Regions from separate parts of the Homo sapiens genome. Here region 1 is linked to region 2. Evidence: fine-mapped expression QTL. A gene starts in region 2. The other region holds a variant in brackets. All regions are shown on one strand. Distances are between the middles of the regions.

The links. PIP is the estimated chance that this variant, and not a neighbour inherited with it, causes the effect.
Region 1: its variant is fine-mapped to the expression of GEMIN4 in subcutaneous fat (GTEx, PIP above 0.99).

What each region holds. Positions count from the first base shown.
Region 1 is chr17:788,576-796,901 of GRCh38, forward strand. MRM3 (mitochondrial rRNA methyltransferase 3) reads left to right here. Exons shown (of 4, transcript NM_018146.4): 4 at 2,959-3,934. The coding sequence ends at 3,494. Among named protein-coding and RNA genes, the nearest start is that of MRM3, 10 kb to the left of the region's middle. RefSeq lists an enhancer at 2,294-2,588. The variant C/T (reference allele first, on the strand shown) is at 4,201.
Region 2 is chr17:748,983-757,296 of GRCh38, forward strand. GEMIN4 (gem nuclear organelle associated protein 4) reads right to left here and starts at 3,282. Exons shown (of 2, transcript NM_015721.3): 1 at 3,151-3,282. The coding sequence starts at 3,160. It also overlaps the pseudogene DBIL5P. RefSeq lists an enhancer at 2,562-2,621 and silencers at 2,802-3,221, 3,402-3,661.

The DNA.
Region 1 (8,326 bases), 40 kb after region 2:
CCAAAGTGCTGGAATTATAGGCATGAACAACTATGCCCAGCCAAGTCAATCACTGTTAGGTGAGCTATGGCTCTGGGCAGGCAGACATGCATTGGATCTTGGGTCTGCCTTCACTAGCTGTGGTCCCTGAGCAGTAGCTGGAATGACAGGCATGAATAACCACGCCCAGCCAAGTCGACCATTGTTAGGTGAGCTAGGGCTCTGGGCAGGCAGACACGGCTTTGGATGGGTCTGCCTTCACTAGCTGTGGTCCCTGAGCAGTAGTCCCTGAAGTGTCAGCTTCCTCGTTGGTGAACTGGGAGGAATAACAGAATCTCCCTGGTCACTGTGAGGATTAAGTGAGATGATGCACAGAAGTTACTTCATACCTTACCTGCCTCACGAGTAATTCAGTCAATGTTGATTCTCTTTTTTAAAAATTATGTTTTTTGTAGAGACGGGGTCTTGCTGTGTTGCCCAGGCTAATCTGGAACTCCTAAGCTCAAGGGATCCTCCTGCCTCGGCCTGTCAAAGTGCTGAGATTATAGGCATTAGCCGCCATACCCAGCCATGTTTATTATCTTTTAAAATTATCATGAAACCTGCTAGGCTGTTAGAGAACTTCACATCGATTATGGAAAAGAAATAGATGCCAATTTTAACACTTGGTTTCTGGTTCTTTATGTAATGATATTGAGTTCCCAAATTGCTGAGTATATGAGCCACTCCTGAGTCTTGACTTCTGAATCCTATGAAAGGAATGACGTCAGCAGCTCTGAATCCTAATGTCATTGTGATCCGTTTCCCTTAGATTCCCTTAGCCTCAGCGTGGGTCACATGCCCCGCACACAAATTCGCCTCATTACATTTCTGTCTCTTCTCATCAGAAATAGGGATTAATAGGCTTGGCTCTAAACAGACTTTCCTCACAGTTGGAGCACGCCTAAAATGTCTCTTACACCTTGGGAGGTGGAGGGGACAGAGAGTACCATTCATCAGAAACACCCCAGCCACCATTAAAAGTAAACTAATAGTGGCACCCGTTGTTGAGACTTGCCTAAATTGCTGCTCGCAGCTCTTTCTCAGTCACGCCTTGCTAGAATACGTTTCTGTGCCAGTGTGAGAGCTACGTGCTGGGGTTCTGTGATCAGTACCCGCTTACTCGCCCCATTATTTAGTGCTCTGATAGCTGTTGTGGGATTTGGAAATAAATCTAAATAATCCAAGCATTGTGGTTTTCACATTGATACTGATGGCTGGGGTGTAAGAAATAGGGAAAGAAGGTAGGAAATACTTGGTGTGGTGCCCAGTATCCAGGACATGAGGATGACGGGAGGAGTCTCGCCTTTCCCCTTTCCCTTCTCCCCTCCAGGCAGAGGGGTCAGCCTCGGCCGCTCCTCTCACACGCCTGGGCCTATCTCTGGTTTCCTGCAGGGAGAGGGAAAGCCCGTGGCTGGGGGTGCAGGCGCTGTTACATCCTCTGTGTCTTATTCTCCGTTTAAAATCTGGTTTGCCTGGTTCGTCTATCCCGAGGTTTGACAAATGAACTTCTAAAATAACTCGTCAGGAGAAGACTTGCGCTAACAAGCTGTGCGGGGGAGGGTGGGAGGCCATGCAGTCACTGCGAGGCCCCACCCTCGGCCACTCTCCCAGCCCGCCCGTGGTGAGGAGCCGCCCCTGGGAAAGGCCAGGCGTCGCAGGCTGCTGCCGGGGTTGCCTCTTGCCTCATTGCCTCATCTCTAGAGTGTTCCCTGCTCCGGTGCAGACTGAACGTTGAAGCCCAATGGGTCTTGATGAAACTATAGATCTGATTCTGTCACTGCTTTGCTTAAGATCCCTCAATGGCATGATACTGTCTTCTGATAAAATGCCAAACTCCTCAGCTTCCCATAGGAGGCCTCCTCCGTGTTGGCCTGCCCACCTCCCACCTCCTGTGCCACTACAGCCCCAGCGCTGATTGACCGGCTCACTGCCTGTGCCACCACACCCCCACCCGCTGATTGGCTGGCTCACCTCCTGTGCCGCCACAGCGCCACCGCTGATTGGCCGGCTCACCCCCTGTGCCGCCACAGCACCACCAGTGATTGGCAGGCTCACCTGTGCCACCACACCCCCACCCGCTGATTGGCCAGCTCACCTCCTGTGCCACCACACCCCCCCACCCGCTGATTGGCCACCTCAACTGTGCCACCACACCCCCACCGGCTGATTGGCTGGCTCACCTCCTGTGCCGCCACAGCGCCACCGCTGATTGGCCGGCTCACCCCCTGTGCCGCCACAGCACCACCAGTGATTGGCAGGCTCACCTGTGCCACCACACCCCCACCCGCTGATTGGCCAGCTCACCTCCTGTGCCACCACACCCCCCCCCCACCCGCTGATTGGCCACCTCAACTGTGCCACCACACCCCCACCGGCTGATTGGCTGGCTCACCTCCTGTGCCGCCACAGCGCCACCGCTGATTGGCCGGCTCACCATGCTTGCAGTCCTTAGGCTGCGCCACTCTCCCGCTTCCTCTCCTAGCTCTGTCCTCTGCCTGGGCCTTTATCTCAGTGTGGTGGTCTTTTAGATGGTTTTCCTCATCGCCCTGCTTTGTCCGTGGGTTTTCTATGACTGTGTGGGTGCTTCTTTTACATCAGTTACTGATACTGTAGCCATCTGTTTAATACCACCCCACTACACTGTGCGTTCCTTGGGGTTGGGGACTTTCATTATCTTTGCATCTTCTGCGCAGTGTCTGGCACGTGTGAATGGGAGATGTTGAAGGGATGCATAAAATATCTTCAGCACTAGCAGGAGTGACTCCTATAGTCGCTGTGCTGGATGCTGTCAGAGAGAGGCAGAAGGTCCCATCCCTCAAGAAAGCTATCATAGAAGAACTGGTTTATCTCCTGATCCAAAATTGATCAGACTTACTCCACAGTCCCCTGGTCTGGGAAGATTTGTAACATCTTGATTGTTTCCTTTTTATTTTCCAGGCTGTGTGGATGCCTGGGAGCCCAAAGTGCTCCGGGCGGGTATGGGCGCACATTTCCGGATGCCCATTATCAATAATCTGGAATGGGAAACCGTGCCCAATTACCTGCCCCCTGACACTCGGGTCTATGTGGCTGACAACTGTGGCCTTTATGCCCAGGCTGAGATGTCTAATAAAGCTAGTGACCATGGCTGGGTGTGTGATCAACGAGTGATGAAGTTTCACAAGTATGAGGAAGAGGAAGATGTAGAAACCGGAGCCAGTCAAGATTGGCTGCCTCATGTTGAGGTTCAGAGTTACGACTCGGACTGGACAGAGGCGCCGGCAGCTGTGGTGATTGGCGGGGAGACCTACGGCGTGAGCCTGGAGTCCCTGCAGCTGGCCGAGAGCACTGGTGGCAAGAGGCTGCTGATCCCCGTTGTGCCTGGTGTGGACAGCCTCAACTCGGCCATGGCGGCAAGCATCCTGCTTTTCGAAGGGAAAAGACAGCTGCGGGGGAGGGCGGAGGACTTGAGCAGGGACAGGAGTTACCACTGAGGACGCAGAAGTGACTTCTGCTTGAGGACGTCTGCAGCTCCTCCTACACCAGCACACTGGTGGGAGGCTGGCGGAGTCAGTGACTATGGCCCCCACGTTCAGGAGGAAGGTGTGATGCCGTCATACAGTTACAGGAAAAATAAGAACTTCCTCAGAAAGAACAGGTCCGAATTCTTCCTGTCGCGTCACTGATTTTGAGGTTCTTTTTTCTCTTGGTGACAATAGGTGACCCACGTGGCTCTGTGTGTTTTTAAAAATTGTCCACCAAGAAGCACTTTGTGCCCAGAAAGTTCCTGAAGCATCATCCTGGCAGGGAGGCGCCTGCTCCACCAGCTGGTGGGTGTTTGTAATCGCCAAGCACCAGCTATAGGTCACAGCCACATCACTCACAGCTGATCACTGGTTGGTGGAAAATAAACTATGAGCAGCAGATTACGTTAGTAAGTTGTTTTGTGTCGTTGGTGTGTCACAGTACCTGTCACGTTTGGCCTGGTAACGAGGACGTGGCTAAGGGAACACCAGGAAGCTGAGGGCTACGCTCATGGCATCCAGCAGCTCTGCTCTGGGCTCAGATGGTCTGTCTTTGAGATTGTTCAGGGCTTCACTGAGCCACTGTTTATGTATCCATAGAAACGGCTTAATTCAACAGGCCATGTCAGACCTTCTTGGCACCTCTGCAGATACCTTTTTGAGGACTTTGCAGAGA[C/T]GGAAGTCTATGCGGAAAACTGAATTTCAAAATCGGCAGCCTCACCCTGCATGTGTCAGGAAAGTGTCACTGTTTCCTGGTTCCCTGTGTTAGTCCTACTTACGTCTCATCCCCCAATGTTTAGAGGCCAAGGTTCTGAGAATGAACGCCCACAATACAGCGGCAGGACCCTTCTGTTCTCTCAGCCCCTCCAGGGCCCAGGGCAAGCTGGATCTTTACCTACTAGCGGCCAAACCAGGATGTAGCCAGGGTGTCAGGGCAAGTGCTGATGGTCATCAATGTATCTATAAGGAACTGTGGGGATGGGGTGGGTGGGTGGAATATGGGACTCTTAAGCACTGCTGGCCAGGTGCGGTGGCTCACGCCTGTAATCCCAGCACCTCGGGAGGCCGGGCGCAGTGGCTCACGCCTGTAATCCCAGCACCTCGGGAGGCCGGGCGCAGTGGCTCACGCCTGTAATCCCAGCACTTTGGGAGGCCAAGGCGGCGGATCACAAGGTCAGGAGATCGAGACCGTCCTGGCTAACACGGTGAAATCCTGTCTTCACTAAAAAAATACACAAAATTAGCCAGGCGTGGTGGCAGGTGCTACTCGGGAGGCTGAGGCAGGAGAATGGCGTGAACCCGGGAGGCGGAGCTTGCAGTGAGCCGAGATCGCGCCACTGCACGCCAGCCTGGGCGACAGAGCGAGACTCCGTCTCAAAAAAAAAAAAAAAAGCACTGCTTTTGCAGCCACACAGAGTTGGAGTTGAAGACAACACAGGAAGCGTTTCCCCACACCCCTCTGCCCAGCGGCTCCCGTAATGGTTTGGACACTGCTCACTCCAGGGAGGTCAAGTGTGTTGCTGGTGTGCCCAGGAGAAACCTTCTTTCTCTTCTACTCCCCCAACTTCCTAGTCAAACTCCCTCTTCCTAGTAAAACCAAATGACCAAGCATGATTCACGTGCCAAGGGGCAGGTTGGGATTGCTCTCCCCTGGGGGAGGGGTGTTTGCAGGGACAGTGTCCTCCCAGGCTGACATCTGAATATTTGAACATCTGCTCTGGAGCCCCACTGTGGTCTGGGCCTGCCCAGAGCTCCACATGAATGGGCAATGCAAGTGTCCCCCCAACACTGCTCCCAAAGGCTGGTGCAGAGAGGACAGGCGGAAAGGCGGCCTGGAGAATGCAAATCCATCCCACTCCAGTCTCCCCAGACACCTCAGGACAGTGCTCAAGCAGCAGGAGTCACGAAAAGGAAGCTCACATCTTTCCAGCCTAAAACCAATCTCGTGGGATTTGTTCCCCGGGTTATACTCCCACTGACTCGTTACAAAATAACAGTGAAAGAATAAACCATGTATTACCTTGTCCTTGTTTAGAAAAAGCAATGTAAACACTGGAAAGTAATTTTTTTTTTTTTTTTTGAGACGGAATCTCACTCTGTCGCCCAGGCTGGAGTGCAGTGGCGCGATCTCGGCTCACTGCAAGCTCTGCCTCCCGGGTTCCCGCCATTCTCCTGCCTCAGCCTCCCGAGTAGCACCTGCCACCAAGCCTGGCTAATTTTGTGTGTTTTTTTAGTGAAGAAAGGATTTCACCGTGTTAGCCAGGACGGTCTCGATCTCCTGACCTTGTGATCCGCCGCCTTGGCCTCCCAAAGTGCTGGGATTACAGGCGTGAGCCACTGCGCCCGGCTAATTTTTTGTATTTTTAGTAGAGACGGGGTTTCACCATGTTAGCCAGGATGGTCTTGATCTCCTGACCTCGTGATCCACCCGCCTCGGCCTCCCAAAGTGCTGGGATTACAGGCGTGAGCCACAGTGCCCGGCCAACACTGACAAGTAATTCTAAGCCCATTTTATCCTGGGTGTGAGAGGGAAAAGAAATTTACATCCCTTTGCTTTAGAGTCCGTGGCTTATATGCCACGGTGCCTTCAGTTCACTTTATATATTCATGGGTATAATTTAGTAGGGACGAGGGAGGGTGCAGGAGGGAGGCAAATTGTCCTTTCTTCAGTGAATACAGGGGAACAGATGGTTGTTATTTGCTGAGTGATTCTGGAAAATCACTACCTTGAATTCTCAGTTTTGAGTCTGACATTTGTTCTGTCACCATTTCCCCAGTAAACAGGAATAAAAAACGAGCCACATTTGACAAGGAAAACACTGCTTGGCCGAGAGACAAACATTGTCAGGATGTTGGCCACGCTCCCGCGCCTTTGTGTGGTGGCGTAGCTGTCACAGTGGCGTCTGCCAGGAGGTGGCAGGCGACACCTCCAAAACCACCCCAGTGCTGAAGGGCGGGGCTGCGATTTTTTCCTGGATTTAAATCGTTGAAAAGGGAGGAAAAGAGGATGGAGTGAAGTCTCCCTCCACCAGAGAGCATTTTGCAAGCTGTCTGTGCTCCGGGGTGTTAAAGCCGGAGACCCATCCAGATTGTCCCAGACCACCTCAGAAGAAAGAACCCGGAGTACAGGAAGACATGGGAACAAAAACGGAGGCGAAAGAGGACGAACGGGAAATAGCAGGAAAGACCGTCACAACTTTTCCCTGTGACTGCAGCCTCTGAGAAAAGCAACTCTGGGCAAAGCATAGGTGTCCAGATGTGCCTGGAGCTCACGCTGGGTGCCCACCGGCTGGCCCTTCGGTTCCTGCTTCGGGGCAGAGAGCGTTGAAATCACTCTCCCCTCGCCCCAGCCGCTGGCTCCTGGCTGGGAGCCTGGTCATTAAGGTCCAGAGGAGAAACAGACCTCTGGGGACCTGCCGTTCACCTGGGACCTTCCGCTGCTTGCCCCGGGGTTGACAGCAACCCCAGATGTCCGCACCAGCCACGCTGGGCCACACTTAGCCCCACTTTTGCCATTCTACCACGCACAGCCCTCACACACACTCCCCATCCAAGGTTCCAGGGCTCTGGGCTGAAAATCACCAGCTGTACTGCAGGGCCTGGGGCTGCCCTCTTGACCAAGCTACCTCTCCCTCAGGAGCAGAGCTGACAGGCTCACCTGTTTTTAAGAAAACATGTTGCCACCTTAAAAATTCCATGATTGTGTTTCCTCTGTTTTCTTTTTTTTTTTTTAGATGGGGTTTTGCCACGTTGCCTAGGCTAGTCTTGAACTCCCGGCCTCAAGCTATCCTCCTGCTTCAGCCTCGAAAGTGCTGGGATGCCAGGCGTGAGCCCCTGCGCCCGCCATGTTTCCTGTTTTCATCAGTGCAGGGAGTGCACACATGTAATAAGCTAGGAGCCAAGTTAGTGGATGAGCTGGTTTATTGCTCAGGATGACTGAAGTCTCAACTACGGAACCATGTTACATTCGAGCAGCTGAGACAGCAGCTGAAGCCAGGTCCTCCCGAAGCTTCAGGAAGCCTGCTTGATGCTCCACGGCTGAGAGTGACAGAGAATCCAGAATAGCTTATGGATGGGTCAGTTCTCGTCTCACCACACTCCCAATATCCAGCTTCCTGGACTGTTGTGTAGGGAAGAGCCACTTTTTTCAGTTGAAGTCTGAGTTCTTATGGGCCATGACCAAGGCTGCTGCTTCCTCAAAAGGCACGAAGGGGGCCGCGTGCGGTGGCTCACGCCTGTAATCCCAGCACTTTGGGAGGCCAAGGCGGGCGGATCACGAGGTCAGGAGTTTGAGATCAGCCTGGCAAACATGGCGACACCCTGTCTCTACTAAAAATACAAACATTAGCCCGGCGTGGTGGCGTGTGCCTGTAGTCCCAGCTACTTGGGAGGCTGAGACAGGAGACTTGCTTGAATGTGGGAGGCGGAGGTTGCAGTGAGTCAGATCGTGCCACTGCACTCCAGCCTGGGTGACAAAAGTGAAACTCTTGTCTTTAAAAAAAAAAAAAAGAAATGCAGGAAGGGAACAGGGAACAAGGCTGGGGAGGGAGGAGCCGACGGCTGCAGCAAGCTCCGGCCTCAGCCTCCCTTCCCTGCTCCTCTGAGATGCCGAGGGCGGGGCGTACTCACTGCAAGCCTGCCAAGTAGGACCTCCATGTCCTCTGACATTCGAGAGATGGATTTTTTGGCCCTGAGATCACGTCTCCTACTGTGTCGTCATTCTAGCACCTGTGGGTGACTTCCTCATGTGAGTGAGGCATAAGCACCCGGAATCCGGACTGGAGGCCGTCTCTGCCTCTGGA
Region 2 (8,314 bases):
CCACAGGGTAATGGGCACAGCAGCAATCACACGGCCACAGGGTAATGGGCACAGAGCAATCACACGGCCACAGGATAATGGGCACAGAGCAATCACACGGCCACAGGATAATGGGCACAGAGCAATCACACGGCCACAGGATAATGGGCACAGAGCAATCACACGGCCACAGGGTAATGGGCACAGAGCAATCACACGGCCACAGGGTAATGGGCACAGAGCAATCACACGGCCACAGGATAATGGGCACAGAGCAATCACACGGCCACAGGGTAATGGGCACAGCAGCAATCACACGGCCACAGGGTAATGGGCACAGCAGCAGTCACACGGCCACAGGGTAATGGGCACAGAGCAATCACACGGCCACAGGGTAATGGGCACAGCAGCAATCACACGGCCACAGGATAATGGGCACAGCAGCAATCACACAGCCACAGGGTAATGGGCACAGAAGCAATCACACGGCTACAGGATAATGGGCACAGAGCAATCACACAGCCACAGGATAATGGGCACAGAGCAATCACACAGCCACAGGATAATGGGCACAGCAGCAATCACACAGCCACAAGGTAATGGGCACAGCAGCAATCACACGGCTACAGGGTAATGGGCACAGAGCGATCACACGGCCACAGGATAATGGGCACAGAGCAATCACACAGCCACAGGGTAATGGGCACAGCAGCAATCACGCAGCCACAGGGTAACGGGCACAGCAGCAGTCACACAGCCACAGGGTAATGGGCACAGAGCAATCACATAGCCACAGAGCAATGGGCACAGAAGGAATCAGACAAGCCCTGCCTTCACTCTTTATAAACTTGCCTTGGGAACAGGCTTCAAACATTCTTCTAGCTTTCAGGGAAACGGTCCACCCCACAGCTCCTTCCAGTCAAAAACAAGGTACTCATGGCCCTAGCTCTGTGGGAGAAACCAGGGAGTAGATACAGAAAATACTGTGCTAGATTAAGCCTTCCTTCAGGGAACTAACGATTGACACAGACTTACCATGGAAAACATCTTGGGATGTTTAATCAGACATGGGTTTAAATCCTAGTTCAGCCATTTAAAAATGATGTGATTCTGGCCAGGTTCAGTGGCTAGCACTTGTAATCCCAGCTACTTGGGGGGCTGAGGCAGGTGGATCCCTGAGGCCAGGAGTTCAAGACTAGCTGGGGTAACACAGTGAGACTCCCCCTCCATCTCCGAAAAAAAAAAAGGGATGTGATCTTGGTCAGATTGCTTCTCCAAGCCTTCCTTCTGCATATGTGGGGATAATACAGACTTCATGTTATGCCTTTGGGGATCATGTGATATATACCAGTCAAGCCCTTGCTAGTGGGTTGGCACTGCTATCTCCTGACCCCATCTCCCCGGGACGCTATGATGGATAAATGAGATAGAGCTACAGTAAGAATCCAGTTACAGAGTCTAATTAGGTGCTCAGTAAATGTTGGTTTCCCCAAACCTTTTCATGGTTGGCAAGACCAGAATCTTGTCACTATTCTTTGCCTCCCCCAGCTCAGAAACATCAAAGGATGTAGGTCTTTATCAGGTATGTTTCCTTTGGCCCAGAAACTAAAACGAGGGTGCAAACACTGCTCCCTATTCCTCATTCCTGAGTCATCTCCCCTTTCCCAGGAGTGAGAGATGCTACTCCTTCCTCAGTCTGTCATGCCCCCAAGAGCTCATATTCCCCATTTTCACAGGCCAGACACCAGCAGAGAAAACACTGACTCCAGGAGACTAAGGACCATCTTACCCCTCCCACCATTTATGGGAGCGGCAGCAGGCCAAGGGCTCAGCACTATGTAACCCACTTGTGGAGGCAATCCATCTCATCTCACAGTGGCTGAGACCGACTCCCAGGGAGGGTTACGCTGCGAAGGGGACCTCCCTGGGGGTTACCGCCCTTCTTTCTGGCTCAGGAGGCTCTCCCAGGGTCCCAAAATATAGTCCCTCCTGACGCTGTAAATTTAATTTTATTGCATTATTGGCTTAGTTGAGCAGATGTTTGGCCCTAAACACCTGCCTTCCAGGCGCATTAAGTACGCACAGTTTGAAGTAGTAAGTCCCAGGGCGGTTACTAGCTGGAAAATACTCCGGTACTCTATCATGGATGGTTAACTAGTGCTTGCCACAGCCCGCTTCTTAGGTTTATTAAGCACCTACTCCATGCCAGACACTGTGCTAGGTGGTACACAGGTAAGATCTCTTCTATTCACAATCACCTTTTGAGGACTAGTATTCCTGCTCTAGAGATAAGGACACTGAGGCGCAGAAACGATTTGCTGAGGGTGTCCCAGCCTGAATGTGGTGGGGCTGGGAAGCAATTACGGCTGAGGGGCTCCAAGCCCTTAGAGCTCTGCCATTCCGCTCCTGAAAAGCTGTCTGGGGGCGGGGACCAGACCATTTCCCCCCAGCCTACTACTGCTGACACATCTCGGGGTGCCTCACCCCCAGCTCTCCCAGAACAGCCTCCTGGTCTTAGCAGCGTGTGCCAAGATTTAGCAGGGAGCATCTAGTTCCTATGGGCTCCCTCCCAGACCTTGCCTGTAAGATTCTGAATCCGGACGCACGCAGGTTCACAAAGTGATACCTCAGGAGCGCAGCCGCCCCCACCGCGGGTGTGACCCGCGCAACCCCACAAGGGACACTGTACCTCGGCGATCTCAATGCAAAGTCGCCCAAAACTCAGTGGGGAGACACACTTCCATTCTCCCCGCTCTGTCGATGAGGAAACGTCATGAGCGTAAGACACTTGGAGCGTTAAGACACTTGCTCAAGAACGCAGCTGCCGTTCAGGAAATGAGGCCGTCGGGGCGCCCAGGGGTGCTCGGAGGGAGCCCGTTTCCCAAAGCACGTGCGCGAGCCCCGGGCGCTTCCAAGGGCTCTAACTTCACGTCTGCTCCGTGTTTTCAAGCGCAGGGGGCCGGAGGCGGCAAGACGCGGCCCAACGCGCGGCGGGACCCGGACCACCCCCCGCCAAGGCCACCCCGGGACCCCTAGACCCGCCCCGACGCGGGGGACGTTTCGGTCCGGGCCCGCGCGAGCGTGCGCGACAGGAGGAGACGCGACGGGGCAGCACCGCTCTGGTGGCGCATTGCTGGACGCAGCCCGGGGCCGGGGAGCCGCGGCACCCACCTAGGTCCATGGCGGCGACGCCGGCGGCTGCGCGGGGCTAACGCCCCCTCCCCTCCGAGAACTCGAACGCGGCGCGGGACGCACGGCACGATGGGAGACGCAGGAGCCACGGCGGCCGCGCTTAGGCCTGCTCACAACCTCCGCCCGGCCCCGCCCACAGCCTCCGCCGCGCACGCGCAGTCCTCACGAACGAGCGCGCCAAGCGCACAGCGCCGCCTTCCGGCAGAGCCCTCCCACCAGCCCTCAGGTACCCGGACGTCGCTCACTAGACCCCTCCGCACCGTCCCCTGCCCGGCCCCTCTTCCGGGGTCCCAGCGGGTCGGGCTCATGATTCCCCGGCCCCGCATTCACCCTCACCCGGTAACCCCGGGCGTGCCCCGCACACAGTTCACCCCCACCGAGCGCCTCCCCCGGGACGCCCACCACCCAGCGCGGCCGCACCACGCGAGGCTTCCACTCCCACCCGCCCAGCTCGCGCCACATACAGTCCCTCAACGCGCTCCTGCCGCGCCGCCCCCTCCAGACAGCAGCGTTCCGGATCCTAGACGCTTTTTGACGGCTGGTCCTCCCCAGAAAATGCGCCGTGTGAGCCCAAACATGGTGGGGTTTACGCTGGACCCCGAGCTTGCAATCTGTGCTTGACAAAACACAAACATCGCGTGCCTGTCTCCTCCCCCTGAGATCGAGTAGTAACAGCCACTCCAACTCTCCACCTCCAGCTTCTAGCACCAGGGACCGCCTCCACCACCCCATGTGCCAAGTGGAGTTCGAGCTGCGCGGCCCTCAAGCAGCTGAAGGGTCCCGTGAGCGATCAGGAGAAGCTGCTGGTCTACGGCTTGTACAAACAGGCCACCCAGGGCGACTGCGACATCCCCGGCCCTCCGGCCTCAGACGTGAGAGCCAGGGCCAAGTGGGAGGCTTGGAGCGCGAAAAAAGGGGCGTCCAAGATGGACGCCATGAGGGGCTACGCGGCCAAAGTGGAGGAGCTGACGAAGAAGGAAGTGGGGGGCGTGGAGCGCGAACAAAGGGGCGTGCAAGATGGACGCCATGAGGGGCTACGCGGCCAAAGTGGAGGAGCTGACGAAGAAGGAAGTGGGGGGCGTGGAGCGCGAACAAAGGGGCGTCCAAGATGGACGCCATGAGGGGCTACGCGGCCAAAGTGGAGGAGCTGACGAAGAAGGAAGTGGGGGGCGTGGAGCGCGAACAAAGGGGCGTCCAAGATGGACGCCATGAGGGGCTACGCGGCCAAAGTGGAGGAGCTGACGAAGAAGGAAGTGGGGGGCGTGGAGCGCGAACAAAGGGGCGTCCAAGATGGACGCCATGAGGGGCTACGCGGCCAGAGTGAGGAGATGAGGAAGAAGGAGGCTGGCTGAGGGCTCCTCGGGAATGGAAAGGGCTTCTTAGACCTTGATGGCTGAAATGTCCTGAAACTGTCGCAAGCTTAGCCGAGACATCAATAAATCACTTAAACTGCATGAGAGTGACTGCTGTTGGAAAGGAGAAACTCGGTGACTGAGTGCTGGGGAGGCGTCCAAATACACAGACTAACTTTTTGTATGGTTTTGGGTGGAGTTCCCAGCTCTCCTATTACAAGAGCGTATGTAGGTATTTGGAAGGACGAGGGGGACAGTGTGCTGTGGAAATGCCCAAGATCTGAGGGCAGGAGACCATTCTCCAGTGACAGCCTCTTGGGAGGTTGAGGCCCCAGCCCCTTATCTCTTCAAGGCTGATTTACTAATACCCCAGCACCACAGAGGGGAGAGGGACTCTGTCCTCCTAAACACTAAAGTCAAGTCCAAAAGCCCCCACTGGAACACAGGGCCTACCCGGTTCATGTTTTGAGGGAGACCAAGCTTTCCGTGATGATAATGTGATGAAACAATTGATGCGCCAGAACACAGCAGTTTAGAAACAATGGAGCAGATGGTGTCAAAATCCCAGCCCCAGAAAGGCTCACCTAAGGCCGGGCAACCAAAATGTTCCCGGGACTATTCTGTACTTAACCCTGGTTTCTGCTTAGGGGACGGTGGGACAATATGCATATGGATGTCTATGTGGGATTTGTTGCAAGAGCACAACACACCCCTTGACCTATGCAAGTGCCAGAGTGTCTGAGCCCAGCTTCTACTCCTGTTAATGATCACAGGAGCCTCATACACAACCATTGTGCATGGCGGCTGGAGTATGGAGTAGTAAATGGTATCCAGAAAGGCAGGTCTACGGTGGCATATGGGATTTCCTGGTACTTCTTCTTTAATAGAAACTATCTTCACAGATCATGACATCAGGTCAGCTGCAGTTCTCACTGGGACCAATAAACAATAGAAGCAACAACCATAAAGACTTAAGAGGACAAAGGAAACCAAACCTCACTGTGTGTCTTCAAGATCTGTTCACATAGTTGCAGGAAGTTGCTGTAGACAAAGTACATTACTAAAGAATGAAGCCCACCCAGGACATCACAGCAACGAAAGAACTATTTCTGGTAACTGTGGACCAGGTGAGAGCCACACTGTAGAACAGCAGTGCTGCCCTCTCTTCTTTGGCGAATGTTATGAAGACATTCTGATGCACTTAGGATCATGATTCATGTTAAATGTAAATTAATTGTAAAAATAATACATCTTGCTCCAAAATGTGGTGACAATTTAGAAGCTGTCCACATAGCCAGACCACTCTGTAAATCACAGAACCTAGAAAGTAAAAATGTGCCATAATTAGGACAGCAGAAAGTAACAGTAAAATAAAGTTTTAAAAAAAAAAACAGAAAATAAGGATTTATCTATTTGTATTTGCTTAAGAAGAGGTTACCTATAGGATGCAGGGGGAATGGGATTGATGGGCATGGGGTATACTGTGAAAGGAAAATAAAATCTTGGGACCAAATTCACTAAGCGAAAAGGAAAAGTTAAGCTTGGAAATTGAGTCATGGAATATGCAAAAAACTTCCTTTTGTTCCTAAACAGATAAGCTACAAGACAGAAGGCCACATATCTCCCCAGGTGGTCTCCCTCACCTGACAATATAAATTAACAGCTTATCTTCATAGGTAAGGGACAAAGACAACACCAGAAACCATCCCTCACCAGCCGAGACAAAACATAGATGTACTGAGCTGAATGCATAACTGTTCCTCTGCCTGCTGCTTTCACTGTAACATATAGATTTGGTGAGCAGTAAATGTAGATTTACTGAGCTGAATGCATAACTGTTCCTCTGCCCGCTCCTTTCACTGTAACATGTAGATTTGGTGAGCGCTAAATGTAGATTTACTGAGCTGAATGCATAACTGACTGTTCGTCTGCCCGCTCCTTTCACTGTAACATGTAGATTTGGTGAGCACTAAATGTAGATTTACTGAGCTGAATGCATAACTGAGTGTTCCTCTGCCCGCTCCTTTCACTGTAACATGTAGAGTTGGTGAGCGCTAAATGTAGATTTACTGAGCTGAATGCAAAACTGACTGTTCCTCTGCCTGCTCCTTTCACTGTAACATGTAGATTTGGTGAGTGCTAAATGTAGACTTACTGAGCTGAATGCGTAACTGTTCCTCTGCCCGCTCCTTTCACTGTAACATGTAGATTTGGTGAGCACTAAATGTAGATTTACTGAGCTGAATGCAAAACTGACTGTTCCTCTGCCTGCTCCTTTCACTGTAACATGTAGATTTGGTGAGTGCTAAATGTAGATTTACTGAGCTGAATGCAAAACTGACTGTTCCTCTACCCCCTCCTTTCACTGTGACATGTAGATTTGGTGAGCGCTGATCAAAGCCTAATAAGAATGTAACCACTTATCTCCCTACCTACCCTCCTGTATTTTTCCTTTCCCTCTTCCCTCCCTTCCTGCTCTTTCCCTTTTAAATACTTGTTAGGAATAATGCTCAAAATCCTAAGGAAATAGAACACTCGAACAAAGGATTCTTAGCAAAGCAATTTTACTTCTGTGCAGAGGGGTGCCTCCTTGGCCAGTTGTCATGAGAGCACACCTGAACAAAGGGGCACGAGAGCCTTTGTTCCTGACACAAGTCCTGCCCCTCTACCCTTTCCCCATTGGCCGGGGTCAGGTCGTACAATCTAAACTAATCGCGCTTGGCTAAACATTTGATTTTTTTAGATAGGGTGGGCCCGTAAAAGAAAGCGGAGAGGAAGGGGAAGGGGTGTCTGTAATGAGCTAGAAAGTTAGTCCTCTTTCCAAATAAGGAAAGGAATGTGAGCTGGTACTGATAACGCCTGGTGCTGTGGCGTGCCTGGGCATCTCACAAAGGCAAAAAGGGAAAAGGAGAAAAAGGGGGCGGGGCGCTATGAATTAAAGAATAAAAGATTGATCAGATTATTTGAAGAGAAACGTCGTCATATCCCACATACTGAGGCCCTAAAAATCCTCTCTGGAAAGTGTGCGGGGGCCACAGATCTGTGGTTGTGTCTCAGGCACATCCTCAGCCTTGGCAAAATAAACCTCTAAATGGGCGAGACTTGTCTCAGACACTTACCCGGTTTACAATACCTTTTCATATTGTTTTCATTTTTGAACCATGTGGCTCTATTGCTTTATATAAAGAGGATGAGGCAAGGGCACTTCTTTATTATCATTGAAGTCAGAGTAAATTTACTATTGATTTCCCCTGAGGTTGGGGTAAGAACTCTTAGAACAAACAGGGAAACTTCTCAACTCTTACCCTGAATTTCAACGGACACGTTGGAGGTCTCCTGAAAACTCTGGCTGCTAAGTCACAGCGGCACTGAGTGGCAGGTGAGAGAGCCAGAAAGCCACATGAAGGAGCACTCACCGTCCCTAGGTTTGTTAATTCCGGTAACATGTCAGACGGACACGGACTTCAGACAGTCCTGCAGGCTAACTAGGAGAGCTCTGGCAACACGGCCGTTCTAAGTCTTCCCGGAGATTTAACTCAAGGCACACTTGTATTTACATGTAGGCTCCACAACCCCTTGATTCAAAAAAACAACTCTGGAGAAGCTGAAGAACTTTCCAACTTCATCTGTTTGAAACAACAGCTTGCAGCCTGAACAACGCAGTGAGACGGTCGCTACAAAAGATCAAAACGTTGGCTGGGTGTGGTGGCACGTGGCTGTGGGCCCAGCCATTCGGGAGGCTGAGGTGGGAGGATCTCTTGAGCCCCAGAGGTCAAGGCTGCAGAAAGCCA